Homo sapiens: one gene and its partners. The protein of the gene in region 3 purifies or fractionates together with the protein of the main gene of each other region. This does not show direct contact. Each region holds a gene or a part of one and is shown on either strand. Other genes may lie near its edges. The genes, in order: AKAP12, EEF2K, HSPA12B and ZC3H7A.

Region 1 (6,994 bases), on a different chromosome or scaffold from region 3:
GGCTGAGCTTTAAACTTCATCTGTAAATTGAACATTTTCTGTAGCTTCCATATGAATTTTAGATTATTAAGTACTCATGAATTGAATACAACTGTTAATTCTTCTAGTTTATAATTAGCAAATTATAATTAATGCTCTAAAATAATCCGTCTCAAATCCTCACATAGAAAGTAAAATTCAAATAATTTACTCACAGTTTCTTCCATAGACTTCTCAACAGGGTAATAACATTATTCTTGGTTATTTATTTTCCAGGCCATGTAAATGTTAATATTCTTATTTGTAAAAAGTAAAATCATATCTTAAGAGATGCATGCGCACATTCTAGTACTCTCTATTCTGCCTGAAACAGCTCTGTGATAAGGGAGTATTAAGAATAACAAATTCACACGAGCACAAGATAGAGTGGGAATTAGGTTCTTAGATGACTGGATATCTCTGTGGGAACAACTGGTTTAGAAAGAAGTAGGTGTTTTATCCAGGGAAAACAAAGAAGTTATAATCAAGAGAGAAGCAGTTTCAAAGGTGAAGGTGAAGAGTTGCCAGTCTCAGCGAAGGCTTTGTAACTAGAGAATGAATCTTTAGGGTAGAGTTAACGGTAGATTTTAAACTGTTTTAATAATTAAAATTATTATTGCACTTTGAAGGGGGTGTCTGAACTCAGTTGTAAAATGTTTGACATTTGTGAATTCCTTTAATGTTATATTTGAAACTGTTTTGGTGCATGCACAAGGTGCCCAACTATGACTCTACATTTTATTGTTAAACCTCATGTGACCCGTCTTTCTGGAGAAGTATGTGTGCGAAGTACAGGTTCAGCCTGCTACACAGGCAACATGTATTTGTTTTTGAGAAATCTCAAACTGTGTTTATGAGAGAATTAACCCTCTCAGGGAAACAGCTCTACCAACGACTGCCCCATGGGAGAGGATGTGTGGGGACACCTGCATCCTGCTATTTGGAGAAAAATTGAGCTGCTGGTGAGACATTGAACCAACAGCCTTGGACTGAGAAGTGAAAAATAGAGAACACCTGCCTCCCCTCTACTCTGATGCCAATCCAAGCAATTCCGAAGGCATCTTGGAAGCCCTAGAAAAGAAAACCTCAGTGACTCGATTTAGAACCTTGGAAACTAGAGTGGTAACTTTGTGCTTGGCACATAATAGGTACTTGATAGAAATTTATTGAAAGAAAGAAAGAGAAGAAGGAAAGAAAGAAAAAGAAAGAAAGAACAGAGAAGAAGGAAAGAAAGAAAAAGAAAGAAAGAAAGAAAAGTAAAAAAAGTAACAAACTTTGTAGCATTCTGAAGCACTAAGTGGCATACCCAAAAGGTTGGGCTATTTCATCGCTAGAGGTCATTAATAACACAACCACTTTTCTTTTCTTCTCTTTTTTTTTTTTGAGACAGGGTCTCACTATGTCATCCAGGCTGCAGTCTGGAACTCCTGGGCTCAAGTGATCCTCCCGCCTCAGCCTCCCAAGTAGCTAGGACTACAGGCATGCACCACCACTCCTGGCTAAATTTTTTTTTATTTTTTGTAGAGATGGGAGTTTCACTGTGTTGCCCAGGCTGGTCTTGAACCCCTGGTGTCAAGCAATCCTTCCACTTCAACCTCCCAAAGTGCTGGGATTACAGGCGTGAGCCACCGCGCCCAGCGCAATGATTTTACTTTTTACAAATAAGAGTATGAACATTTACATGGCCTGGAAAATAAACAAAAAGCAAGTAACTGCTAATCTAAGCAGATGCTGATATCTTCCTCAGCACGTAGGTTGTACACTGTTGGCTTGACCCTGCAATCCTTTCTGAAAATTTAAAGGGTAGTAGATGTGAAAAGCTTTGCTAAGAATTTCCCAGGAACAAAGTAAATATAATCTCACAGAATGTGAAAATGTTGATAGTATTTGTGCTACTTACTGATACATTTTCAAATGTGCTGACGTTAATCATTCTCAAATAGTTTTTTTTTTCTTCTTCTTTTTTTTTTTTTGGGACGGAGTCTTAATCTGTCATCCAGGCTGGCGTGCAATGGCATGATCTCAGCTCACTGCAACCTCCACCTCCCAGGTTCAAGCAGTTCTCGTGTCTTGGCCTCCTGAGTAGCTGGGATTACAGACACGCGCCACCATGCCTGGCTAATTTTTGTACTTTTAGTAGAGACGGGGTTTCACCATGTTGCCCAGGCTGGTCTTGAACTACTGTCCTCAGGTGATCCACCCACCTCGGCCTCCCAAAGTGCTGGGATTACAGGTGTAAGCCACCACACCTGGCCTCAAGTAGGTTTTAACAGTGCTTTTTGCTCTTAAAATCCTAAGTGAGGTCCAAATGCCACGTTTCAGTAACACCTCTGAGAGGAGAGAACACAGTTGATTGAAAGGGAAGGGGAGTGCCATGCGGTGGTGAAGCGTGGACCCTGAAAGCAGATGCCAGTTGGACTTCCTGCTCTTCCAACTCCTGGCTGTGAAACCTGAAGCACACAATTTAATTTCTCCGGGCCTACTCCTCCCCCTCCTGCCAATGGTAAAATGAGAATAATACTATCTATCCCATGGGGTTATTGTAAAGATTATTATGTAAAGTGCATTGAACAGTGCCTGGTACAGAGTAAGAATTCTAATGTTTCCTAAATAGTCAAAATTTAAGTCAAAATGGGGGAAATGTGTATAAATTCCTAAAACTAAGCATTTTGCAAATATACTGTTTCTTAAGAGATAAACTCCAGAGAAATTGGCCTTCGTGTAGTCCTTTAAATAAAAATAATTAATTCAGAAAACAGGCCCAGTGTGGTGGTTCACACCTATAATCCCAGCACTTTGAGAGGCCAAGGCAGGAGGATCGCTTGAGCTCAGGAGTTCAACACTAGCCTGGGCAACACAGCGAGACCTTGTCTCAAAAAAAGAAAAAGAAAAAAAATTAATTCAGAAAACAAATTTGATGGTGAGTAACTAACCTATGGTTCCCAGGGTACCATTCGATTCATGCAATTCATTAGGCATGAAACATCCTAGTGCTGAACTACTGCTTACACCCTTTCTACAAAATTGTACTAAATCTGAGTATGAGATATTTATCTGGAATTTGGTGTGAATATTCCGAAAGTTTCTTCCTTCTTTCTTTCTTTTTTTTTTTTGACAGAATCTTGCTCTGTCGACTAGGATGGAGTGCAGAGGCACAGTCATAGCTCACTGCAGCCTCGAATTCCTGGGCTGAAGTCATCCTTCTACCCCAGCGTCCCCAGCCTCCTGAGTAGCTAGGACTACAGGTGCACCACTGCGCCTGGCTAATTTTTTTATTTTTTGTAGAGACAAGGTCTCGCTATGTTAACCAGGCTGGTTTCTTCATTCTTAATGGAGATTCAAAGTATTTGTGAAAACTGGGGCACTCGGTTGCTAGTTACAACTGGAATAAATTTTGTCTTTCAGCCCCAAAGCCTTAATGCTTTGCGCCAAGCAATCCAGCTACAAATTTAATTTAGTTCAAATACTTATTGATTGGCTGCCATGCTCATGTAATACATATTATATTCAAGGGTCGGAAATGAAAGGATGCAAGCCACTTGTGCTGGTATTATTTAAAGTCTTCATCTTTTGAGAAAGGCTGACGGCAAAGGAACAGATCTATGCTGTCATGTGTCGGCATCGCGCGGAGCAGAGGTGGCCTGGATGGGTAACTTCCAGCACAGGCCCTCAAAGAAGGACGGGCACATTTCCGGTAACAGCCTCATTTCCCCCCGTTCCCCGGGGGAAGGGGGGCGGCTAGCACTGCTGATGGCATCGCCTGACATCACTTGTTCCGGAGGATAGGAGAGCGTGGGCCTGCGTGGCCCACCTCATCCGTGGCCTGACTGCGTTAACCTCTCGGTTCCCTGCTCTTGCCACGTGAGGTGCCCAAATATGGTCGGACTCAGGAGGAGCCAGGGAGCGCTTGCCTTTCTCCTGCTAATGGGGAGGAGGCTGGAACAAATGTTTGGAGTTAAACACAATCTGCAGGAAAGCAAATGGGGACTCGGACTCGCTCCTGGGCGAGCTGAAAGTCGGCTGCAGCAGAAGCTCCTGCCTTGGGTGATCCATCATTTAATAAACCCCAGAGAATCCAGTGTCCCCGGCAGGCTTTTTGCTCCCCTGCTCTCTTGCCTTCTGAGGCCCTGGGTCGTCCCCGCAGCTCTAGTCGCCCTGTTAGAAACGGGAGGCGCCCGAGGGCCGGGTGGGCGGCTGCCTGGACCTGGGCTGGCGCGTCGCAGCGCCTCTGGTCCCGGCAGCCTGGGGGCAGATGCTGCTGCAGGGCGTGTCTGGGGCTGTGCTCATGTGATGAAGCGAGGGAAAAACCGGGGGGAGGGGGGCGGAGGCTAAGAGGTGGCCTTTTTTTTTTTTTCCTTTTCTTTTAAGGAGTTTGCCGCGAGCGCGTCTCCTTCATTCGCAGGCTGGGCGCGTTCGCAGTCGGCTGGCGGCGAAGGAAGGCGCTCTCGGGACCTCGCGGGCGCGCGTCTTTTGGCTCTTGCCCCTGTCCCTGCGGCTTGGGGAAGGCGTAACCCGGCGGCTAGGCGCGGGAGAAGTGCGGAGGAGCCATGGGCGCCGGGAGCTCCACCGAGCAGCGCAGCCCGGAGCAGCCGCCCGAGGGGAGCTCCACGCCGGCTGAGCCCGAGCCCAGCGGCGGCGGCCCCTCGGCCGAGGCGGCGCCAGACACCACCGCGGACCCCGCCATCGCTGCCTCGGACCCCGCCACCAAGGTACGGGCGTGCCGGGCCACCTGCGCCGGGAGGCGCGGGTCTTTGGGGGTGGGGGTGGGGGTGGGGGGGTCCCTCCGATTTCCGCCGAGAGAACTTCCCAGCCCATCCAGCCGCATCTGCAAACTCAGGAGTGCGAACCCCTCTTTGGAGGCTTTTCAGGGTCTTTCGCGCCGGGGCGGGGCCAGAGCAGCGGCGAGCGCGGCGGGGGGCTTGCATCTTTGTCGCGGGTCTCCAGGGGAGGCGACTGCGCCATGCGCAATAATAAAACCCGCGCCCTGCCCACGGCGGCTGAGCCTTTCTGCGCACTCTTCCGGTGGGAGCCATGCAGCCCGAGGCGGAGGAGCTGCGCGGAGGGGGATCCGTGGAGAATGGACCCCGGGCCGGGCCTCCGGAGCTCCGAGATGCGGAAAGTCAGCTGTGAGGCCAGGACTCGTGGTGGAGCCCGCCGGGGAGCCCAGCCACCCTCGGGTTCCCCGTCGCGTACCGCCCTGGATGCCAGCGGTGCCTGGAGCGAGCGGGTTTGGTACCCAGTCCTCCTGCGGCAGCGGCCCGAGCAGGCACCGCCTTCCCGAGGCAGAGAAAGCCTGGGGTGTAGCTCGCTCAGAGCCAGGAAAAACCTGGGCAGGCGCTGCGTTTCCAGAAGGAATGACAGGTTTCGCAAACCAGCCAGCGCCCTCGCGTTCGCTCAGCGCTTTGCCTGCAGACTCAGTTGGCCAAACACACGCTAGAGTGGCTAGAAGTTCTCAAAGGATGGGGTCAGTGTAACGAGCATTCCGGGTACTCTTCCCTGGACGCAGTGCTGAAACGACTGCATTTTATCGGCTTCAGTCTTCAAGGCTGGAATATTTCTTGTGGGCCAGGACAGCCGCCAAGACTGTGGCTTGTTCTGGTCGTGGTATTTTAGATCTATTTTCCAGCGCATGTGTTCATTAGCAAGGCTTCACTCTACTGATTTTGTGATACCCTTGTATCACAAAGGTACCCTTGTGATACCTTGTAGAAAGATGTGGATAACCATGTTTAATAGTTAAATTTGCGGTATGTCAAATTTGAGGATAGAGTACGTGAGTTATCGCAGGAGGTGTAGATGTTTACAATATGCAAAAAAAAAAAAAAAAAGGAACCTACAACCATGACCTAATTGCCTTGACCTCCTTAGCTGCCCTAGTCTCTTTTGGGCTGAGAGACTGCTGTTAATAATATAGTTTTTACCGCCAGTCTTTGATTCATAACTACTTGTAAAATCCATGGTCCCTAGATATTAAGTACTAACTGTGTCTCTGTGCTATGTAGGTTTTTCTAAGAGATGCTTAAGCTTCTGGCCTGAGGAATGTACTGTCCTTTTGAGATTCAAGTCGCATTTTAATACTTACTGTATGCACATAATGTTTTGATGCCAGCTACTGTCAAAGTGGCTCTGTAACCAGTGGTCAGAGTCTAGCGATGAAAATAATTTTAAGGTATAATTGCTAAAAACTTGCAGTTGGGTGACATTCCCCCCACCGCCCCGGCTTTTATACTCCTTCAGATCTTACTAACTGTTCACCCTGAAATATGGGATTTAATCCCTTCCCAGTAAACTTGAATTTGTTTATTTAAAAATATTCCTTCCATTCTCTTTTTCCGTCTTCCATAACCTTATCCTTTTCCTCTTTCCAAGTTGCCAACCGTCTTGAAGCAACCAAACAACCTCCTTTTAAAAAATCACTTAAATGACATCCAGAATATCATTGAACTTGTTGGCATAATGCCCAGTTATCAATTTGGAGACAAATCAGTGCACTTACATGTATCCTTGGAATGTATTTAGTTTTCATTTGAACTAGCCAAATTTATCACTCAGGCTTTGAACACAAATGTCTTTTCAAAAGGACTCCCCAATTAAGAATGACTCAGCACCATGGCCCTTGCCTCCCCTCTTCTTGTTAAGCTCCAATTCCTGACCTCCAAGTAATCCCATCTCCCACTCTAGGCTCCGTGGCACCATGGACCCGTCCCAGCAGTTTTCACATGTGTGGGTTTAGTGTTCTTGCTGTTGTGAATACTTCGCAGGGGCAGGGAACACGCCTGGTTGTGCCGACCAACGGTGTTCCTTCATGCGTGCCATGTTGCCTGGCACAGAGGCAGCTCTCAGGAATACTTGTGGAAAGAGGAAGGGGTGATATTGGCTCCTTGGTTTTGATTGGAAAATATCAAGTTGGAGAATACCTTGACCTATCTGATTTTACTACAATTTAACCCTTGATCATTTCATTATCACGTGAGAC
Region 2 (7,025 bases), on a different chromosome or scaffold from region 3:
CTACAGATGGAGGCCAAGCTCTGGGGGGAGGAGTATAATCGGCACAAGCCCCCCAAGCAGGTGCGTGGCCCCACTACCTGCCCCCTTTCCATGCCAGGGCAGCTGGGCACAGTGTCTGGGAAAGAGGGCCATGGTGAATCCCTATTTCACCTTCTTTTTTTTTTTTTTTGAGATGAAGTCTTGCTCTGTCACCCACCACCAAGGCTGGAGTGCAGTGGCATGATCTTGGCTCACTGCAACCTCCATCTCCCAGGTTCAAGCGATTCTCCTGCCTCAGCCACCCCAGTAGCTGGGATTACATACAGGTGCCTGCCACCACATCTGGCTAATTTTTGTATTTTTAGTAGAGATGTGGTTTCACCATGTTGGCCAGGCTGGTCTCGAACTCCTGACCTCAAGTGATCTGCCTGCCTTGGCCTCCCAAAGTGCTGGGATTACAGGTGTGAGCCACCATACCTGGCCTCTTTCACCTTCTTAATAGTAGCTAATAACAACCACTGTTTACTGAGCATGATGAACCAAGTCATTTATTTTATTTTTATTTTTTTTGAGACAGGATCTTTCTTGGTTGCCCAGGCCAGAGTGCAGTGGCATAATTACAGCTCACTGCAGCCTCAACCTCCTGGGCTTGAACAATCCTCCCAGCTTGGCCTCCTGAGTAGCTGGGACTACAGGGGTATGCCACCATGCCTAGCTAATTTTTGTATTTTCTGTAGAGAAAGGGTTTTGCCATGTTGCCCAGGCTGGTTTCAAACTCCTGGCCTCAAGCAATCCATCCACCTCGGCCTCCCAAAGGGCTGGGATTACAGGCGTGAGCCATTGCACTTGTTCCAGAGTCATTTATTCCTAAAAACAGAGCTCTGAGGTCGGAATGTTTTTATCCTCAATTACAGATGGGATCTATTAGTCAGGATTTTTGTTTGCAAATGACAGAAACCCACTCAAACTGCTTAATCCGAAAAGGGAATTCATTGCCTTATGTAACTGAAAAATAATGCTGCCACAGGCACGGCTGGATGCAGGATTAAACTGAGGTTGTCAGAATCTTCCTCCATCTCTGGCCTGGGTGTTCTTCTGGGTTGGCGTCATTCTCAGGCAGCCTCTGCACTAGTGGTAGCACTCTGGCCCCCAGCAGGCCCAAGTTCTTGTTGGAATGACAAAACCTATTTCCCCAGAAGTTCCAATAAAAGTCCCAGAGCTGCGTTTCATTGGCTCTGATTAAGTCAGATCCCTATTGCCGAGCCAATCACAGTGGCCAAGGGGCAGGAATATGCAGATTGGGCACACCCTAGCCATGTGCCTGCCCTTAGAGCTAGGAATGTAGGTGTTCCACCCAGACCACAGGGACTGAGACTGGAAAAGGTGAGATTCCCAAGAAAAAGCGGAAGAAAGAGCTGGGAATGTATATTAGTCCGTTTTCACACTTCTGATAAAGACATACCCAAGACTGGGTAATTTATAAAAGAAAAAGAGGTTTAATGGACAGATAGTTCCATGTGGCTGGGGAGGCCTCACAATCATGGCAGAAGGCAAAAGGCACATCTTACCTGGTGGCAGACAAGAGAGATTGAGGACCAAGCAAAGGGGGTTTCCCCTTATAAAACCATCAGATCTCGTGAGACTTATTCACTATCATGAGAACAGTATGGGGGAAACCACCCCCATGATTCAATTATCTCCTACCAGGTCCCTCCCACAACACGTGGGAATTATGGGAGCTACAATTCAAGATGAGCTTTGAGTGGGGACACAGCCAAACCATATCATAGTGGATACTATGTCTGCTCTTTGGGAAACCCTGGGCTCAAAGAGGCTAAATGACTTCCCCAACCAGGCAGAGCTGTAGCCAGGTCTCAAATGCAGGCTTTTCAACCCCCTGCTAGGTTGGCACCTTCATTTGAGCCCCTAGGGTGATGAGTGACTGAGGCCAAGCAGAATTCCCTGTTGCCTTTCGGCATTTGAGGAAGGATCCATGCCTCTGCCCTGCATGAGCCCACAGCTGAGATCTTCCACAGCTTGAGCATCTACTACATACAACGCACAGTCTCCTGGGTGTGCAGAATTTATTGAGCACCTGCTGTTTGCAGAGCCCTTGATGAAGCATACTTGAGGCAGGCGCAAGAAGCCACAGTCCCCACCCTGGGGGGCTGTGGCTTCCTCTGCAATTTGCGGCCTTCCAGCCTGGCCTCCTTTCTCTTCCTCCACAAGCTTGTTCCTGCCCCAAAACCTTGGCCCTGGCTGTGGGCTTGGCGGGCATCTTGTGTCACCGTAATTCTTGCATGGCTAGCTACTTCTTATAGTTCAGGTCTCAGATCCTGTGTCACCTCCTCAGCCAGCCCATCTCAGACAACCCTAAGAAGTGGTCCCTCTGCCCCAGTCACCTCTGTCACATCATTCTAACTTTTTTTTTTTTTCCTGTTCTTTGGAGCAGTTAGTATGTCATTCATTTAGTTAATATTTTAGGTGCTTCTCTCCCCTAAAGGCAGAGATTTTATTTTATCATGTTCACTGCTGTCTCCTAGTGCCTAGGTGTCCAGTAAATAATACTGTGGTAGGCCTGGCACAGTGGCTCATGCCTGTAATCCCAGCACTTTGGGAGGCTGAAGTGGGCGGATCACCTGAGGTCAGGAGTTCGAGACCAGCCTGGCCAACATGGTGAAACCCCCGCCTCTACTAAAAATACAAAATTAGCTGGGCATGGTGGTGCACGCCTGTAATCCCAGCTACTTGGGAGGCTGAGGCAGGAGAATCACTTGAACACGAGAGGCGGAGGCTGCAGTGAGCCGAGATTGGGCTACTGCACTCCGGCCTGGGTGACAGAGCAAGACTCCATCCCCAAATAGTAGTAGTAGTAGTAGTAGTAACAATAATAATAATAATAATAATAATGTGGTTGACTTAAGGGAGGGAGAGAGACGTGGTTGTTTGAGAAGGTGCTGGTTGTCCACTGTGGCTGTACCACTGCCCCTCGCCCAGGGAGCCCTCTGGCCCAGCAGGTGGCCCTGCTGTAAGTTTCCTTGTAGGGATGGGACCAGCCTTTGGGCAGAACCCTCTGAGAACCGCCGCTCCCTGCCTTCCCCTCAGGCCGGTTCTCAGAACCCATTGAAGCCTTGTTTGGGGCAAGTTCTCACCTCTCAGATCAGGACCCCTTCGGCCTCTGCATCTGTTGTCTGCATGTCTGGTGACCCACTCTCCATGGATGGTCGTTTCCTTGGGAAACCTGGACCTAATCCTCCCAGGAGGTGGCATTGAGGAGGACATGGGAACCAAGGATGAGTCCTTGTGTAACAGGGCAAGAGGTGCAAGCTAGAGTCCCTAATCTCCCCTACTCCACTTTACAAACCATATGCACTATTTATACATTTTCTTCTGTGTACAAAATTAAACATAGACTTTATAAAAACAAAAAAAATTCGGCAAGGAATGTCAAAGTTCCCTATAATTTCCCATTGCAGGGAGAAAACTGCTGTTTAGAGGTTGGTTTATATTTCTCTAGAATTGTAGCTCCTGATAAAAATGAGTTGCCAGGCACAGTGGCTCATGCTTGTAATCTCAGCACTTTGGAAAGCCCGGGGTGGGGGGGCGGATCACTTGAGGTCAGGAGTTCAAGACCAGCCTGGCCAACATGGTAAAACCCATCTCTACTAAAAATACAAAAATTAGGCAGGCATGGAGGCGGGTGCCTGTAGTCCCAGCTACTCAAGAGGCTGAGGCAGAGGAATTGCTTGAACCTGGGAGGCAGAGGTTGCAGTGAGCCAAGATCGTGCCACTGCAGTCCAGCCTGGGCAACAGCCTGGGCAATAAAATATAAAATAAAATGAAAGCAAACATTGCCTGGCTCCTTTTTGCATCAATAAGTTTAATTCACAGACTGAGCCTGAGACCCTCTTTATGCAGGTAAAGAAACTGAGGCACAGAGAGGTGAAATTCAGAAATGTTCCCAAATTCACAGTTTTACTGTAAGGCATAGTCTAAGTTGCTTAGCAAACAGACCCACAAAATATGTGTGGACACGAAATGGTTTCTTTTTCACTTGTGTGGAGGTCTTGCATTGGTGGGTGGCTTGGGGTAGGCTTGTTTGTGCCTCATCTCCTTGAAGCCATCTAGAGAACTCGTTCCTTTGGTCTTTTTTCTCTGCCATCCCCTCAGGGGTTTGCCATGGACCACATAATCAATTCTGGCTCCCAAGCAGAGTCCACCTTACAGGGCAGGCTGGAGTTACATCATTGCAATGCTCACTTCCCATTGGCTGGGCACAGTCATGTGGCCACACTTAGCTGCAAGGGAAGCTTAGCAATGTCATCCCTAGTGGGTGGCTGTGTACCCTTTTAAAACTCAAAGGAAAACAGAGCTGAGCACAGTGGCTGCAGCTTGTCATCCTAATGCTCTGGGAGGATGCTGGAAGACAAGAGGATTGCTTGAGGCCAGTTCTTGAGGCCAGTTCAAGACCAGCCTAGGCAACATAGTGAGACCTCGTCTCTATAAAAAAATTTAGATATGAGCCATGTGTAGTGACACACGCCTGTAGTCCTAGCTTCTCGGGAGGCTGAGGTGGGAGGATCACTTGAGCCCAGAAGTATGAGGCTGTAATGAGCCATGATTATGACACTGCACTCCAGCCTGGGCGACAGAGTGAGACCCTGTCTCTAAAATAAATTTTTTTTTTTTTAAGACGGAGTCTCACTCTGTCATCCAGGCTGGAGTGCAGTGACATGATCTTGGCTCACTGCAACCTCTGCCTCCTGGGTTAAAGTGATACTCCTGCCTCGACACCCTGAGTAGCTGGGATTTTTGGTACGCACAAGCACGCCCAGCTAATTTTTGTATTTTTATTTTATTAATTTTTTTTTTGAGACGGAGTTTTGCTCTTGTTGCTCAGGGCTGGAGTGCAGTGGTGCAATCTTGGCTCACTGCAACCTCTGCCTCCCAGGTTCAAGTGATTCTCCTGCCTCAGCCTCCAGAGTAGCTGGGATTACAGGCATGTGCCACCATGCCTGGCTAATTTTGTATTTTTGGTAGAGACAGGGTTTCACCATGTTGGCCACGGTTGGTCTCCAACTCCTGGCCTCAGGTGATCCACACACCTTGGCCTCCCAAAGGGCTGGGATTACAGGTGTGAGCCACCATGCCCAGCCTTAATTTTTGTATTTTTAGTAGAGGCAGGATTTCACCATGTTGGCCAGGCTGGTCTCGAACTCCTAACCTCAACTGATTCACCTGCCTCAGCCTCCCAAAGTGCTGGGATTACAGATGTAAGCCACCGTGCCCAGCCTAAAAATATATTTTTTTTAATTTTAAAAAAATTAAAGGAAAAGAGGAGATTAGATTCTGGGCATCATCAGGAGCTCCTACAATAGAGAGCTAGTAAGTCATGGAGCCAGGGTCTGAGCCCAGGCAGGCGAGTTCCTCTGAGCCCTCCCCTTGCCGCTTCTCAGAGGAGGTGCGCCTGGGCCCTCCCGCCTGAGCCCACTCCCCATCCCACCAGGTGGACATCATGCAGATGTGCATCATCGAGCTGAAGGACAGACCGGGCAAGCCCCTCTTCCACCTGGAGCACTACATCGAGGGCAAGTACATCAAGTACAACTCCAACTCTGGCTTTGTCCGCGATGACAACATCCGCCTGACGCCGCAGGTGAGGCCGAGCTCACCTCCACCCTCTGCCCACCACAGCCCTTGGGGTGAGATCCTGGCCAGGCTCAGCCCCTAAAGAGGAAGGTCCCTGTGGGCTTGGAGTCTCACCCCCAGAGAAGCCTCTTGGAGCATTCAGAAGGAGACCCGTCACCCCATGACAGCTTCTGTCACCTAAGGTGGCCACAGGACCTGCAGCCCAAGGTCCCTGCCCAACTGAAGAGGCCTTTTTCCTTTGTCTTTTCCTCTATATAACTCCTTGAAGAGAAAGCCCCTCAGCATGGGCAGAGGCGTGGCCAGTGCCTGCACAGACCTCAGCCTGTCTCTTGACATCTCGTTTTCCTTCCTGTCCCCTGTAGGCCTTCAGCCACTTCACTTTTGAGCGTTCCGGCCATCAGCTGATAGTGGTGGACATCCAGGGAGTTGGGGATCTCTACACTGACCCACAGATCCACACGGAGACGGGCACTGACTTTGGAGACGGCAACCTAGGTACGTGGGGAAAGCCAGCCTGTTTCTGCAGAAACCACGCTCCCTGCTAAAACCTCTGAGTTCTTCGTACAGCCAAGGAAACAGGCTGAGACACTGTACGCGCTTTTTCAAGATCATGGAGATGGGAGCCTGGATGTCTGATGCCTCCCAGCTTGGCACGTTTTATACCTGCCCTGGCCATATGTATGAGGCCCACCACTGCCTGTCCCCCGTCACAGAGCAAAGCAACACTCCAGACACCCCCGCTCTGTCCACAGGTGTCCGCGGGATGGCGCTCTTCTTCTACTCTCATGCCTGCAACCGGATTTGCGAGAGCATGGGCCTTGCTCCCTTTGACCTCTCGCCCCGGGAGAGGGATGCAGTGAATCAGAACACCAAGCTGCTGGTGGGTGCCCAGTGTGACCCTGCTTGGCCTGGCAGGCCCTTCTGCTACTTGCAAAGCAAGCCCTGCTCCCCTGTGTGGTGACAGCCAGGTCAAGCAGTGCTTAACTGATGAATACCAGGGCTGGAAGCATCTGTCCCATCCATGCCCCAGCCCGTCCCCTCCAGCTCAGTGCACAAAGCCCTCCTGAGCGTCCTTCCAATCGAGCAGCTGGTATCTGCTTAGGTTGGGCCCATTTTTTACCAGAGTGAGGGGAACAGGCACGTGGAGATAGTGAGAAGGCATGTGGTGTGTGTGTGTGTTTGTGTGATGTATTGACAAATGACTGAACTAGTCTTAGACCTGGCTCTCCAGGCACCTCACCAACATACCTCCCATCCTCCCATTGCTACTTGGACCAGGGACAAGAGAATGTTGCAAAGACCAGCTTGGGATGCTGGACATAGAGTGGAATGCTTTCTCCAGCTCTGGGCTGTGGAATGTGGTCAGTGCTTTAGGGGATACTGGCAGGTCCTCTGAG
Region 3 (7,025 bases):
TCACCATGTTGGCCAGGCTGGTCTCGAATTCCTGACCTCAGGTGATCCACCTGCCTCAGCCTCTGAAAGTGCTGGGATTACAGGAGTGAGCCACGGCGCCCGGCCCAGAGTCTTTTTTTTCTGGTGGTTCTAGGTTGTTTCTCCTCCAGATACAATAGCCTCGGTCCAGAAAATCCATTCATTCATTCAACAAAGTGGTTCCCCAGTGCTTAGCACAGAGCCTGGCATGAAGAATCTCGATAAGTGTTTGCTGAAGAATCAGAACAACATACAAATAAGGCTGCCAGCTCCTCCCTCGAGACCTTGATCCAGTAGTATGCTGGTTAATGGTTTCCAATCAGCTCTGGAAGAAGGATAAAATCCTGATTTATGGTGTTTGCCAATTTCTGTCTTGTAAATACTCCCAGCCATGACTGATTTGAAGCTACCAATGTGATGTCATTGAATGCAGAATTGGGAAGAGATAGAAAGAATCAGCTCGCATGAGCTGGTGGGACCCAGCTCAGCATCCCACTCCATCATCCTGAGCTGGGCTCTGGGCTCCTGCCCCTGGCTCCTAAGAACCCTCCCCTCCCCCTCTCTGTGCTTTCCCTTTTCTCCTCAACAGCCAGCTGCTATATGCATGCCCACAACCAGCACCCATCCTTCTTCTGATTCTGATTCCTGAGCATCCAACTCCAATGGTACAGAGGACAGCAAGAGTGTCTGGAAATCTCCATGGTGCTGGCCATGCAGGAGAATCCTGGACATACAAGAGTGTGTGGGAGTCCAGGTGTCTGTCCACAATGGGGCTGGTTTGTGTGAACTGTGTGAGCAAGGGTGTGTGCATGTGTCTATGGGCATGCCAGAGCCAGCTCTGTGTCTGCCTGTGTTCTATAGCAAAACTTTCAGATTGGGCCGCTGGTGACAGAGAAGGAATGCATTGGCCCTGCGTAGCCTCCTCCTTTGTTTAGAGGAGCAGCCAGGCCCACCAATGAGAACATAGTGTCAGTGGTCTGCAGACTGGCTGAGAGACACTGTTGAGCAACACTTCTCAAACTTCAATGTGCACCTGAATCACCTGGGAATCTTGTTAAAATAGGCCAGACGCGGTGGCTTACGCCTGTAATCCCAGCACTTTGGGAGGCTGAGACGGGCGGATCACCTGAGGCCAGGAGTTCGAGACCAGCCTGGCCAATATGGTGAAACCCCGACTCTACTAAAAATACAAAAATTAGCCAGGCATTTTTAGGTGGCATTTTAGGCAAATTAGGTGGCGCATGCCTGTGGCCCCAGCTACTTGGGAGGCTGAGGCAGGATAATCACTTGAACCCAGGAGATGGAGATTGCAGTGAGCTGAGAACTGAGATCACGCCACTGCACTCCAGCCTGGGGGACAGAGTGAGACTCTGCCTCAAAAATAAATAAATAAATAAATAAATAAATAAATAAATAAATAAATAAATATGAAATACATGTTCTGATTCAGCAGGTCTGGGCTGGGGCCTGAGGTTCTGCATTTCTAACAAGCTTCCAGGTGATACCAATGCTGCTGATCCTCAGCCCACACTTTGAGTAACAAAGCTGTTGATGGTTTGAAATATCCTGCCTATAGCCTGGCCCCAGAACTTCATAGACAGGATCGAGCCCCTCCCATCTTAGAAAATAAATATTCTTCCTCACCTCCCTTCAGCTTTAGCGCCCTCCAACTACTGCCCTCACATGTATTCCTGATTTCAGCCAAGCTTTTCAGAAATTCTAGCTCAATATGATTGCGTCACTACACTCCAGCCTGGGCAACAGAGTGAAACTCCATCTTAAGAAAAGAAGTTCTAGCTCATGTCACCTCTTGCTCACTCCTCACCTAAGCTTACCTCCCTTGGGCCACTAAAACAGTGTTTCCAGTCTCATCTGGGGACCTTTTACAGGGATCTAGCTTTACCCATCTCTTGGTACAATCTTCATGAGACCATGAGGCATCTCAGTCTCCTGGGCCGGTATATATTCCTCTGTTCAGCCTTTAAATGTAGGTTCTCCTCGTGACAGAGTGACACCCTATCTCAAAACAAACAAACAACGAAGGCCAGGCACGGTGGCTCATGCCTGTAATCCCAGCACTTTGAGAGGCCGAGGTGGGCGGATCACCTGAGGTCAGGAGTTCGAGAACAGCCTGGCCAACACGGCGAAACCCCGTCTCTACTAAAAATACAAAAATTAGCTGGGCATGGAGGCACTCACCTGTAATCCCAGCTACTGAGGAGGCTGAGGTAGGAGAATGGCTTGAACCTGGGAGGCAGAGGTTGCAGTGAGCCAAGATCGTGCCACTGCATTCCAGCCTGGGCAACAGAGTGAGACCCTGTCTCAGAAAAAAGAAAAGACAAATTGAGTCATGCCCCCACCCCACCCTGCCACCTCAAACCTTTCAAGATTTGCTGTTGCCCTTCATATAAAATCAAATCTGAAATAGGGTGCACAGGCCCTGCCTGCAGGGTAAGCCCAGCCCAGCCCTCTGTCCAGACTTACCATGTCCTCTTCCCACCCCGCATTATCCAACTTTGACCTTCCTAGCACTCAGCAACGCTTGTCATTTCAAAATCACTTGCCTGATTATCTCCTCCATCAGACCGTTGGTTTCTAGGGCAGGGACAGTGTCTCTCTGGGTCACTATCTCCCAGCACCTGGCACAGAGCAGGCACCAGAAAACATTTAGGAGGATCCTGATTCCAAGAAAGTAAAGCCATTTTTTGACACAAGCTGGGAACTGTGGGACTTTAGATGAGATTTAAGGAATTACTGTTAATTTCATTAGACATGAGAATGGTGTTGCGATGACATTGTTTAAAACGTCTTTATCTGTTGGAGAGATGTATTAAAGAGTTCACGGGTGAAACAACATGATGGCTGGGATTTGCTTCAAAGGACTCCAGCCAAAAGTAAACAAATAAAATAAATAAGCATTCAGATGAGGGAACAAAGGGACAAATAAATCCCACTCTGCTTGTCTGTTCCTGTTGACAGCTACAGGGCCTGCAAGGATGTTGGCTGTCCCGGAGATGGGCCTGCAGGGGCTGTACATCGGTAAGAACCCCCACCATTCTGCCCTGACCCATCACCCACTCACCCGAGCAGGCACTGAGACCCACCTACAGGTTGTGCAATGTACCTCTCCCACAGAGCTTCCCAACAGCTCTTCTGTGAGTGAGTGTGTGTGTGTGTGTGCATGTGTGCAGGGCAGGTCTGTGTTTACTGGACCCCCCTGTGTGTGCAGAAAGGGTCTGTGTGCACCGGTCTGTGTATGTGAGTATGTGTGCACACAGGACTGGTCTATTCACAGGACCCTCATGTGTATATGAGTGTGGGCTGAGTGCGTGTGTTTGTGTGTGCCAGAAGGGTCTGTGCACACAGGAGTGTATGCATGTGCGTGTGTTTTGTTCAGGCTCTGTCCACAGGACCCTGTGTGAGTGTGTCAGTGAGTGTGTGTCTCTGCGGGCAGGTCTCTGTGCACGGGATCTGTGTACGGGAGTATAGTCTGCAGGTGGGCATGCATACAGAGAGTTCTGCGTGTGCATGGAGGGTCTGTGTGCACAGGAGTGTTTGAATGTCCATGTGTTTTGTTCAGGCCATGTGCACAGGACCCCGTGTGAGTGCATCAGTGAGTGTGTGTCTCTGCGGGCAGGTCTCTGTGCACAGGATCTGTGTACGGGAGTATAGTCTGCAGGTGGGCACGCATGCAGAGAGTTCTGCGTGTGCATGTGCGTCTGGCCATAGCCTGGTCTGGGAGCAGGCTTGGGTTCTCCGCAGGGGTGGGAGGCCGGAGGCAAGAGGGACACTCCTCAGGAAGTCCATTCACAAAGACCTGGTGGGCTGGGCCCTTCCTTCCTGCCTCCCTTCCCAAGCTCGAGCCACAGCAACTTGGCCTCTCGGGCTGCAGCTGGTGGCAGGGCTGGAGCCTGCCCTGGCTGCCTGAGGAGAGGGAGCCCTTGAAATGTGGCCACTTTTTCCCTGCCCCTCCAGCACCTCAGACTCTGGCCCTGTCCAGGCGCTTCCCAGAGTCCCCCTCATGCCTGGCCCTTCGCCTGTGTTCCCAGGTTACCCCCAAGGCCAGGGAGAGTGGAGACCTGCCTGGCAGCACGTGACAGGACTGTGGCTGAGGGAGCACAGGGCCTGCCTGGCTCAGCCTAAGGCGAGCCAGACCTGCCTGATTTGTCCATGGAGCTTCCTACCAGATCTCACTCTCCCTCCCTAGCCAGCCTCCCTGGCCTGTCCATGGATATCAAGGCTGCCCCAGTACTCCTCACATGCCCCTTAGCAATGCCCAGTGTGGTGGTGGCAGCTACCAGCCAGGCAGGCCCTCCTGCCCCATAAGCCGCCTGATCCTCGGGGCGAGGCCTGGGGCTGTCCTCCAGGGCTACTCCACTCCCTCCCACCAAAGGTCCAGCTCAGTCCCAGGCGTGCAAGAGGGTCTTGATGGGGCGTCCTGCCCTGAAATGCTGGCTCAGGGTGTGTGTATGTGTGTGTGTGGGGGGTGGGAATCAGACTTCCTAATGTTGTGGACACCCCCAGTTCAGGACTGGGCTATCTCTATGGGTGTGGGAGGAGGTGCTCCCCCTCCTCGATCCTCCTCAAGCAGCCAGCTGGGCCTGTCTGTGGCCCTTGTGGGCATGGGAGCTGCAGAGTTCCCTCAAGTCCTGATTAGAACCACGTGGCCCAACTTTAGGGTGGAGGGGAGCAACCCCACCTCCTAGCCAGTTAGCTCTGTAGCTCCACCTTTTGAAGGAGGAGGGCTTCTCTCTCCTCTACTCCCTCCCAGGAGCTCACCTGCCCTATCTCCCCTGCCCTTCCATCTCTGGACTGAGTCTCCCTGCCACACAATGCTTTTCTGTCTCTCTCCCCTCCCACACTGTGTGTCTGAGGGGCCCTAGTGGGGAGACAGTGAGCTCCTGGGGAAAGCATGGGTCATCTGCTAGGGAAACGTTGCCTCTGACAGCAGACCCTCAGCTCCTGCCCCTGCGTCATGTGTGTCTTTCCTACACCCCGCAGTCCTCCTCCCCAGCAGAGAGCCCTTTGCCTTAGCCCAGCAAGGACTGATGGAGAACCTTTGGGTGCCTGGCTTGGGGCCCCGCTGCCATACCTACCCTGCTTGTGCCAGGATGAACTGCCGTCTCTTCTCTGCAGGCTCCAGCCCGGAGCGGTCCCCAGTGCCTAGCCCACCCGGCTCCCCGAGGACCCAGGAAAGCTGCGGCATTGCCCCCCTCACACCCTCGCAGTCTCCAGTAAGCCCAGAGCAGGGACCAGGTGGTGGGTGACCTGGCTGGTGTGGACAGGGTCGTGCGTGGCAAAGTCATGACAGGGCCTCAGCTAGGAAGGAGGAGGGGATGGGGGTAGCACCATGCCTCTTGTCCCCGTACACTCCAGTCATGTGCCCCCCAGAAGGATTGGCCTTGGGTGACCCTGGACTATAAAGGGTAACAATTCTACTGAGAAGGCGAGCCCCATGTAACTAACTCCCAACCCCCCCACACAGGAGGCACCCACGGCCATTGAAGCTGGCCTGGCTGAGGCAAGTGTTCCCCTGAGCATGTGGCTTTTCTAGGTCCCCAGAGCACTGGGCCTCTTGTGGACCACAGCCCACCTTAATCCAAGTCATATCTGAAGGAGAGGAGATGTGTTGCCAAAAAAAAAAAAAAATAGTCTGGAAACCATTAGCTTGGGCTGGGCATGGTGGCTCATACCTGTAATCCCAGCACTTTGGGAGGCCGAGGTGGGCAGATTGCTTTGAGCTCAGGAGTTCAAGAACAGCCTGAGCAACACAGCGAAACCCCATCTCTACAAAAAATACAACAATTAGCTGGGCGTGGTGGTGCACACCTGTAATCCCAGCTACTCGGGAGGCTGAGGGTGGAGAATTGCTTGAACCTGGGAAGCGGAGGTTGCAGTTAGCCAAGATCGCACCACTGCATTTCAGCCTAGGTGACAGAGTGAGACCCTGTCTCAAATAAAAAGGAAACTACTAGCTTGAAGTATCCAGGACACCACCTCCCCACCCCCAAGCTCCCTGGGTCACCCCACCTGGATGACCTTGCCCTGGTGATCCAGCTTAGGGACCCCCTTATTCTTAGGGGAGTCCAGCCCTGGCATAGGAGAAGGCACACACTTCTCTGGGGACATGCACGTGCCCTCTCCTCTCTGCCACAGAATCAGACAGTCTGGTTTGTGTCACTATGGCCACAAAGAGCAAGAGGATAAAATATATACACTGGTCCATGTGCTGTAAAACTGCCTGGAGGAGCAAAATTGCTCCCAGCTGGGCCCAGACTAATGGCTGCCTATGAAGATGGTGTGAGGTGGGGGTGGGGCTAAGGCAGTCCAGAGGGAGGGTGGGCAGAGGCTGGAAGCAGGAAAGCAGGAGCTTGAGCCAAACCCTGCCTGGGGCTACCTGAGAGACACGTCCAAGGCTCAGCCTGGAGCCTGGGAGGGCAAGGGAGCCCGAGCAGGTGGGCAGGTGGGGTGGGCCAGGTCCAGGGCTGGTCTGGACCACAGTCAGTGGAGGGGAGTGTCTTCCCCATGCAGAGGAAGCATTGGGGCTGTGGGGGATGGGGGTGTCCCTGCTGGCTGCTTGCTAATTCTAAGTCTTGCACTTGCAGAAACCCGAGGTCCGAGCCCCCCAGCAGGCCTCCTTCTCTGTGGTGGTGGCCATTGACTTCGGCACCACGTCTAGTGGCTATGCTTTCAGCTTTGCCAGTGACCCTGAGGCCATCCACATGATGAGGTGAGGTCGGCTGGGCTGAGAGAGTGAGGTGGGGAAGGTGGGGAGTTCCTCATACCTTGGTCCCAAAAGTACTGTCACCGAGACATGGGGTCTCCTTGGAGGCCCTGCCACCCCCAGTCTGGGGCTCCCCACTGGGGTAAAAGTTGGAGGATGGGCCCCAGGCCTGGGTCCTTGGCCTCAACTGGAGCAGCTCCCAACCCTCTGTAGGAAAAGTCAGACTTTGTTTTTAATTTTGAATTTTTTTGAGATATAACAAACATAACAATAAAATATGCAA
Region 4 (7,025 bases), on a different chromosome or scaffold from region 3:
TGGCAGGTGCCTGTAATCCCAGCTACTCGGGAGGCTAAGACACGAGAATCACTTGAACTCAGGAGGTGAAGTCGCAGAGAGCCGAGATCGTGCCACTGCACTCCAGCCTGGGTGCCAGAGTAAGACTCTGTCTCAAAAAAAAAAAAGAAAAGAAAAAAAAGAACTAAACTAAAGCGTGATAGAAATAATGAAGGAAAATGACAAACTTTTATACATGCTAAAAGAATGTGTATACTTACTTGATAAGAAAAAAGTTTAACATCCCCCTCCCCCCAAATCAGTAAATGACCTGAGCAATTTACAGAAAAAGAAATACAAGGGGTCCGTAAAAATGTGGAATAGTTCAACTTCACTGGTAAAGACATGCACATACAAAGAGGATACCATTAAAAAAAATAAATAAACACAAAACGATACCATTTTCCACCTAGAAATTGGTAGATTTTACATATATGTGCACGGGTACCCACACACGTGTACACACACACACACTACCTAGTGTGTATGGGTGCTATAAAGTAAACCACTAGAAACATTTTTCATCATGGCCTTTTTGGAAGGCAATTTGGAAATACTGCTCAAAAGCCTTAAACTATTCATTCTCTTTGACTTGGGGCTTCCACTTGGTTTCTCTAGCGGGCACAGAATTGGAGATGTGAACAAATATTTATAAGGTACTTTGCTGCATTTTTCTTAATAGTGAGAAATTGAATTTCCCCTTGAAAAAGCAAGCAAGATTCAATCCCTAGCTGAGATAGCAGTGACTTGGGCTGCATCTCACAATTTCTTAGAGCAATGCTGCTGTTCTGTCACATTGTTTCCTGTGAAGTTTTAGGTATAAAAATTAAAATTTACTTATACCATATCTTGTTTGATAAAAGGCTTCAAGTGGTAACTTTCTTTTTTTTAGGTATATTTGCGTGCTCTCGTGAGAAATCTTTTTAATGAAGGAAATGACGTTTATCGGGAACATGATTGGAACAACTCGATAAGCCAGTACACGGAAGCCTTGAATATAGCTGATTATGCAAAATCTGAAGAAATTTTAATCCCCAAAGAAATAATTGAAAAACTATATATAAATCGTATTGCCTGCTATTCTAATATGGTGAGTTGTAATTTTTAAAATGATGTTTCTAGAGTGAAAAGAATTTTTTCAATGACTTAGTACATTAATAAAAAGTCAATTTCTTAAGTTTTTAAGAAAGTCATATTACCTGCTTTTGGAGTGGCTTGAGGCTTTTAAAAATTAGCTTTGGATTGGCCGGGCACGGTGGCTCACGCCTGTAATCCCAGCACTTTGGGAGGCCAAGGTGGGTGGATCATGAGGTTAGGAGTTTGAGACCAGCCTGGCCAATATGGTGAAACCCCGTCTCTACTAAAAATAAAAAAATTAACTGGGCATGGTGGCGTGTGCATGTAGTCCCAGCTGCCCGGGAGGCTGAGGCAGGAGAATCGCTTGAACCCAGGAGGCGAAGCTTGCAGTGAGCCGAGATTGTGCCACTGCACTCCAGCCTGGGCGACAGAGCAAGACTCCGTCTCAAAAAATAAAATAAAATAAAAAAATAAAAATTAGCTTTGGACAGAAGGTTAGGGATTTAAGAAATAATTTGTTTCTTAGTTATTGGTCCTTGATGATTCCCATTTGAGTATGGCTTTTGAAGGTGTGTCTGCTTATAAAAAAGTCATCCAGGGAAGATACAGGTCTTCACAGGTCAGTGTGTCTTTCAGGTATCCCTGTTCACAGTTAACATCTTAGTCAAGATCCAGTTGATCTTGTAAAACACTCTTGGTAAAAAACACTCTTACGAGTGTTTTTTTTTTTTTTTTTTTTTTTGAGACAGTGTCTCGCTCTGTCACCCAGGCTGGAGTGCAGTGGCACGATCTCGGCTCACTGCAACCTCCGCCTCCTGGGTTCAAGCAATTTTCCTGCCTCGGCCTCCCGAGTAGCTGGGACTACAGGCGCATGCCGCCGTGCCCAGCAAATTTTTTGTATTTTGTTAGAGATGGGGTTTCACTGTGTTGCCCAGGCTGTTCTCGATCTCCTGAATTCAGGCAATCTGCCCGCCTCAGCCTCCCAAAGTGCTAGGATTACAGGCGTGAGCCACCGTGCCTGGCGAGTGTTTTTTTAAATCAAGAAATAGTAATTAGTCTTCAAAGGAATTCACACTAGATTTTCACATTTTTAAGCTTAAAAGCTTTTGAAGTGCTTTTTTTTCTTTTTTTCCTTTTAAAACTTTTTTTTTTTTTTTTGAGACAAGAGTTTCACTCTTGTTGCCCAGGCTGGAGTGCAATGGCACAATCTTGGCTCACCGTAACCTCCGTCTCCCGGGTTCAAGAGATTCTCCTGCCTCAGCTTCCCGAGTAGCTGAGATTACAGGCATGTACCACCACACCTGGCTAATTTTGTATTTTTAGTAGAGACGGGGTGTCTCCATGTCGGTCAGGCTGGTCTCGAACTCCTGACCTCAGGTGATCTGCCCGCCTCAGCCTCCCAAAGTGCTGGGATTACAGGCATGAGCCACCACGCCTGGCCACCTTTTTTAAATTTTTGAGATGGAGTGTCACTCTGTTGCCCAGGCTGTAATGCAGTGGCACAATCTCGGCTTACTGTATCCTCTGTCTCCTGGGTTCAAGTGATTTTCCTGCTTCAGCCTCCCGAGTGCTGGGATTATAGGCACCCGCCACCACGCCTGGCTAATTTTTGTATTTTTAGTAGAGATGGGGTTTTTACCATGTTGGCCAGGCTGGTCTCGAACTCCTGACCTCAGGTGATCCACCCACCTCGGCCTCCCAAAGTGCTGGGACTACAGCTGTGAGGCACTGTGCCCAACCTGAAGTGCTTTTAATTTTCACTGTGGATACTCGGTAAAATATAACCATGAATTTAAGAAAAATATCCGTGTTGTCACCTAGCTCTTTGTTAAAGAGCATTCATTGTTTATTTATTTTGTTTTGGGTAATATATTCCTTATCAGTTAGCTGTTTGGAGTTACGTTTCTGTTTGACATCTTAATGTGCTCCAGCAAAGGGTAACTACAGAGGAGCGAATAGGAGAGGGACACATGGGGACATCAGTTAGGTCTGGAAAGCTTTATTTCTTGAAGATCTGGGGACTTTCTGACCAAATATTAGCATTTGTCTGACCTGGATGGTGTGTACATGGGTATTCATGATATTCTTTCTACTTTTTTGTATTTGAAATTTCATAAAATAATTTAAAAAATAAAAGTAATACTGCTAACTTGGAGTTTAGAGGGAGGGTAATAGGATGGGGTATTAATTTGTTTTTATTACAGGAAGGCCTCAGTGCAAGAAATGAATTGTTTGATTGCTGACTTTATTCTTTGGTCTTACACACCAGGGTTTCCATGATAAAGTTTTGGAGGACTGCAATATAGTCCTCAGTTTAAATGCCAGTAACTGCAAAGCTCTGTATCGGAAATCTAAGGCTTTAAGTGATTTAGGAAGATACAAAAAGGCTTACGATGCTGTAGCAAAGTGCTCCTTAGCAGTGCCTCAGGTATGGAATTTATAGTTTATTTGTTTACATCGTAACCATTTACATCATAATAAATGGCATTTAAAGAGTTAAATTTTCCAGTCATCCATCAACCTGCTTCAGTTGGGTATAAATGCTAATGAAGCAGGTGTCTTGATGGGAAACTTCCCTGTTTTGTCTATTCTTCTTCACCATTAGTAAATATAACCCTGTTAATTATACATACTTATTTTTTTCAGGATGAGCATGTAATAAAACTAACTCAAGAACTAGCTCAGAAATTGGGATTTAAAATAAGAAAAGCGTATGTCAGAGCTGAGGTAAGCTGGAGTTCTCTGCATAAGGTGTTTTCATTTTGTTTTAGAACTTGGAGTCAGTTCTGTTTTTAAATTAGTGTCTTTATTTTATTTCAGCTCTCATTAAAATCAGTTCCTGGGGATGGGGCTACCAAGGTAAAGTTATTTTTTCTGTCAAAATTATATTTTTTTTTAAAGGGAAGGATGGGAGCAATTCTACTTTTAGTATTTTTGGTGTGTGTTTATTTTTGGAACCTTTTTAATTCCTCAAACACGTAATTGGCAATACCCTCCTGTCACTTTATTTATTTTTTTGAGACAGAGTCTTGTTCTGTTGCCCAGGCTGGAGTGCAGTGTCCTGATCTTGGCTCACTGCAACCTCCACCTCCTGGGCTCAAGTGATCCTCCCACCTCAGCCTCCCGAGTAGCTGGGACCACAGGCACACACCACCATGGCCTGTTAAATTTTTGTATTTTTTGTAGCGATGGGGTTTCACCATGTTGCCCAGGCTGGCCTCAAACTCCTGAGCTCAAGTGTTCCTCCTGCCTTGGCCTCCCACCAAATGCTGGGATCACAGGCGTGAGCCATCTCTTCTGGCCTCTTCTAGTCACTTTACAAAAGAACATCTACAACTCAAGTAATATATTTTAGCTGTAACCAGCATTTCCTGAATGCTCCAGTGGGGCATTTTATAGGATGTTAATAGATGTTAGGTTTCAGTGCAATAAGAGTGGTTCAGGGCCAAATACTAGTTTTGGGAGTCATTTGTGATAAAATTAACAAAGGGTTTTTTTTTGTTTTTGTTTTTAATTTTAAAATTAAAATTTTCTTGGGGCTAATAGGATGCTAATGGCTATTGTGAGTTGGGCAATGATTGGTGGCCAAATTCATCCCTGTTATTCTGCTGAATAGCCTTTGAGAAATGCTGGTCCACGAGAAATAAGTGGCAGCACTGCTAGACCAGCACCTCACCTAACACCACATGTATACAGGTTTGCGTGTTCCATTCATTTCTTGGATCTTAATTGGGAGTTGAATTTCTGTGGAAACCTGCATTGTTCTCTTAGGGTGAGTTTTTTCTTTTTTTCTTTTTTTTTTTTTTCCAAGACAGAGTCTCGCTCTGTCACCTAGGCTGGAGTGCAGTGGCGCTATCTCAGCTCACTGCAGCCTCCACCTCCCGGGTTCAAGCAGTTCTCTTGCCTCAGCCTCCTGAGTAGCTGGGATTACAGATGCCTGCCACCATGCCTGGCTAATTTTTGTATTTTTAGTAGAGACAGGGTTTCACCATGTTGGCCAGGCTGGTCTCAAACTCCTGACCTCGTGATCTGCCTGTCTCGGCCTCCCCAGGTGCTGGGATTACAGGCGTGAGCCACTGTGCCCGGCCTAGGGTGAGTTTTACTGATTGTTTTATGGCTTAGAGTCCTGAAAATATTATAACCCATTGTTTGGTTTAATTTCTAGGCTTTGAACCATTCTGTGGAAGATATTGAGCCAGGTATGTTTTCACATATCATCTTAACAATTTGAATAGTGCCAGCTTTGTACCTGATGTCTTTGTATGTGATGTATTGTCAAATAATATCGCTGTGTGGTTATATTCATATTAATGTATTAATATGAAAGTGAAAATGATTTCCAATGCTCCCTTTGTGCCTTTGGATGTGCCAGTGAGTGACTGAAAAGTGTTGGATGTTAGTAAGCAATCACTGACACCCACTGTGGCCTTGCCACTGTCTGATAGCTGTGCCCAAAGAGAGATACAGGCATTTTGTGAAAGAAGGATAAGTTTTCACACGTGACTGTATCTGTTTGGAATTGCTTTACTATACTGTCAATTTTATTATTTTTATAATTGCCTTCATATTTTCATCTTTGTATCTCTATTATTGGGGATTAATGGTATTATTATGTAAGTACGATGAAAGTGACTGAGTACATTTCCATCTGTGTTACAGATTTATTAACTCCAAGGCAAGAAGCAGTTCCTGTTGTCTCTTTACCGGCACCCAGTTTTTCTCATGAAGTTGGAAGTGAGCTGGCCTCAGTTCCTGTTATGCCCTTAACTTCTATTTTGCCACTACAAGTGGAAGAGAGCGCTCTGCCATCTGCAGTGCTGGCAAATGGAGGAAAGATGCCCTTCACTATGCCAGAAGCTTTTCTAGATGATGGAGATATGGTCCTTGGAGATGAACTAGATGACCTGCTTGATTCTGCACCTGAAACTAATGAAACTGTTATGGTAAGTTTCAGTGTTACTCAAGTTTCTTCTGAAGACAGAGTTAACTTTTTAAAAATTGTAATATAACTTGATAGACTTTTTCAGTATTGCATATAGGCTGAATTTGGGGGTTTTTTTAACCTTGAAAGTTACTTTTTTTCTTCTCTACTGAAACTGGTTAATTTGATCATTTTGAAATAAAAAAAGAATGCTATCTAGTAATTAGCCAATTTTTTTCCAATTCATATTGGGATCTCATATTATGGAAAGGGCAAAGATAACATTCTGATAAAAAATAGGCGTTTGATATTTAAGAAAAAATGAATTATATAGATTAAAGACTTCTTATTCTTTTTATTTATTTATTTTTTTTTGAGACGGAGTCTTGCTCTGTTGCCCAGGCTGGAGTGCAGTGGCGCAGTCTTGGCTCACTGTAAGCTCCGCCTCCCGGGTTCACACCATTCTCCTGCCTCAGCTTCCTGAGTAGCTGGGACTACAGGCGCCCGCCACCACGCCTGGCTAATTTTTTTGTATTTTTAGTAAAGATGGGGTTTCACTGCCTTAGCCAGAATGGTCTTGATCTCCTGACCTCGTGATCCACCCGCCTCGGCCTCCCAAAGTGCTGGGATTACAAGCGTGAGCTACCATGCCCGGCCTCAGGACTTCTTATTCTTAAAGATAATCCTCTAGCAACCACATACTTTAAAGCGGGGTTCAGCCAACTGTAGCCCACAGGCTAAATCTGGCCTATTACCTGTTTTTGTATGGCTTGCAAACTAAGAATATTTTTTACAATTCTTAAATGGTTGAGAGAAGAACAAAAAAGAGAATAATATTTTGTGACATATGGAGATTATATGAAACTAGCCTGGGTAACCATAGCAAGGGCACATCTCTACAAAAAATTAAAAACAGCCTGGCATAGTGGTGCGTGCCTGTGGTCCCACTGCTTGGAAGGCTGAGGGTAGAGGATCACTTGCGCCCAGGAGGTTGAGGCTGCAGTGAGCA

Evidence for each region.
Region 1: the proteins of HSPA12B (region 3) and AKAP12 purify together in Homo sapiens (co-immunoprecipitation; 2 studies listed by BioGRID and IntAct, with this or other methods). This does not show direct contact.
Region 2: the proteins of HSPA12B (region 3) and EEF2K purify together in Homo sapiens (affinity purification with mass spectrometry; 3 studies listed by BioGRID and IntAct, with this or other methods). This does not show direct contact.
Region 4: the proteins of HSPA12B (region 3) and ZC3H7A purify together in Homo sapiens (co-immunoprecipitation; 2 studies listed by BioGRID and IntAct, with this or other methods). This does not show direct contact.

The regions. Positions count from the first base shown.
Region 1 is NC_000006.12:151,235,998-151,242,991, forward strand, and holds the start of AKAP12 (A-kinase anchor protein 12), read left to right. Parts: upstream 1-3,969; 5' UTR 3,970-4,062; intron 4,063-4,386; 5' UTR 4,387-4,565; coding exon 4,566-4,727; intron 4,728-6,994. UniProt on the Homo sapiens protein: Anchoring protein that mediates the subcellular compartmentation of protein kinase A (PKA) and protein kinase C (PKC).
Region 2 is NC_000016.10:22,251,263-22,258,287, forward strand, and holds part of EEF2K (eukaryotic elongation factor 2 kinase), read left to right. Parts: coding exon 1-60; intron 61-5,485; coding exon 5,486-5,635; intron 5,636-5,990; coding exon 5,991-6,123; intron 6,124-6,380; coding exon 6,381-6,508; intron 6,509-7,025. UniProt on the Homo sapiens protein: Threonine kinase that regulates protein synthesis by controlling the rate of peptide chain elongation.
Region 3 is NC_000020.11:3,735,661-3,742,685, forward strand, and holds part of HSPA12B (heat shock 70 kDa protein 12B), read left to right. Parts: intron 1-607; exon of another isoform or gene 608-680; coding exon of another isoform or gene 681-683; intron 684-730; exon of another isoform or gene 731-772; intron 773-2,997; coding exon of another isoform or gene 2,998-3,014; coding exon 3,015-3,057; intron 3,058-5,154; coding exon 5,155-5,252; intron 5,253-6,623; coding exon 6,624-6,748; intron 6,749-7,025.
Region 4 is NC_000016.10:11,773,249-11,780,273, reverse strand, and holds part of ZC3H7A (zinc finger CCCH domain-containing protein 7A), read left to right. Parts: intron 1-910; coding exon 911-1,108; intron 1,109-3,364; coding exon 3,365-3,523; intron 3,524-3,741; coding exon 3,742-3,822; intron 3,823-3,915; coding exon 3,916-3,954; intron 3,955-4,320; exon of another isoform or gene 4,321-4,867; intron 4,868-5,260; coding exon 5,261-5,294; intron 5,295-5,754; coding exon 5,755-6,038; intron 6,039-7,025. UniProt on the Homo sapiens protein: May be a specific regulator of miRNA biogenesis. Binds to microRNAs MIR7-1, MIR16-2 and MIR29A hairpins recognizing the 3'-ATA(A/T)-5' motif in the apical loop.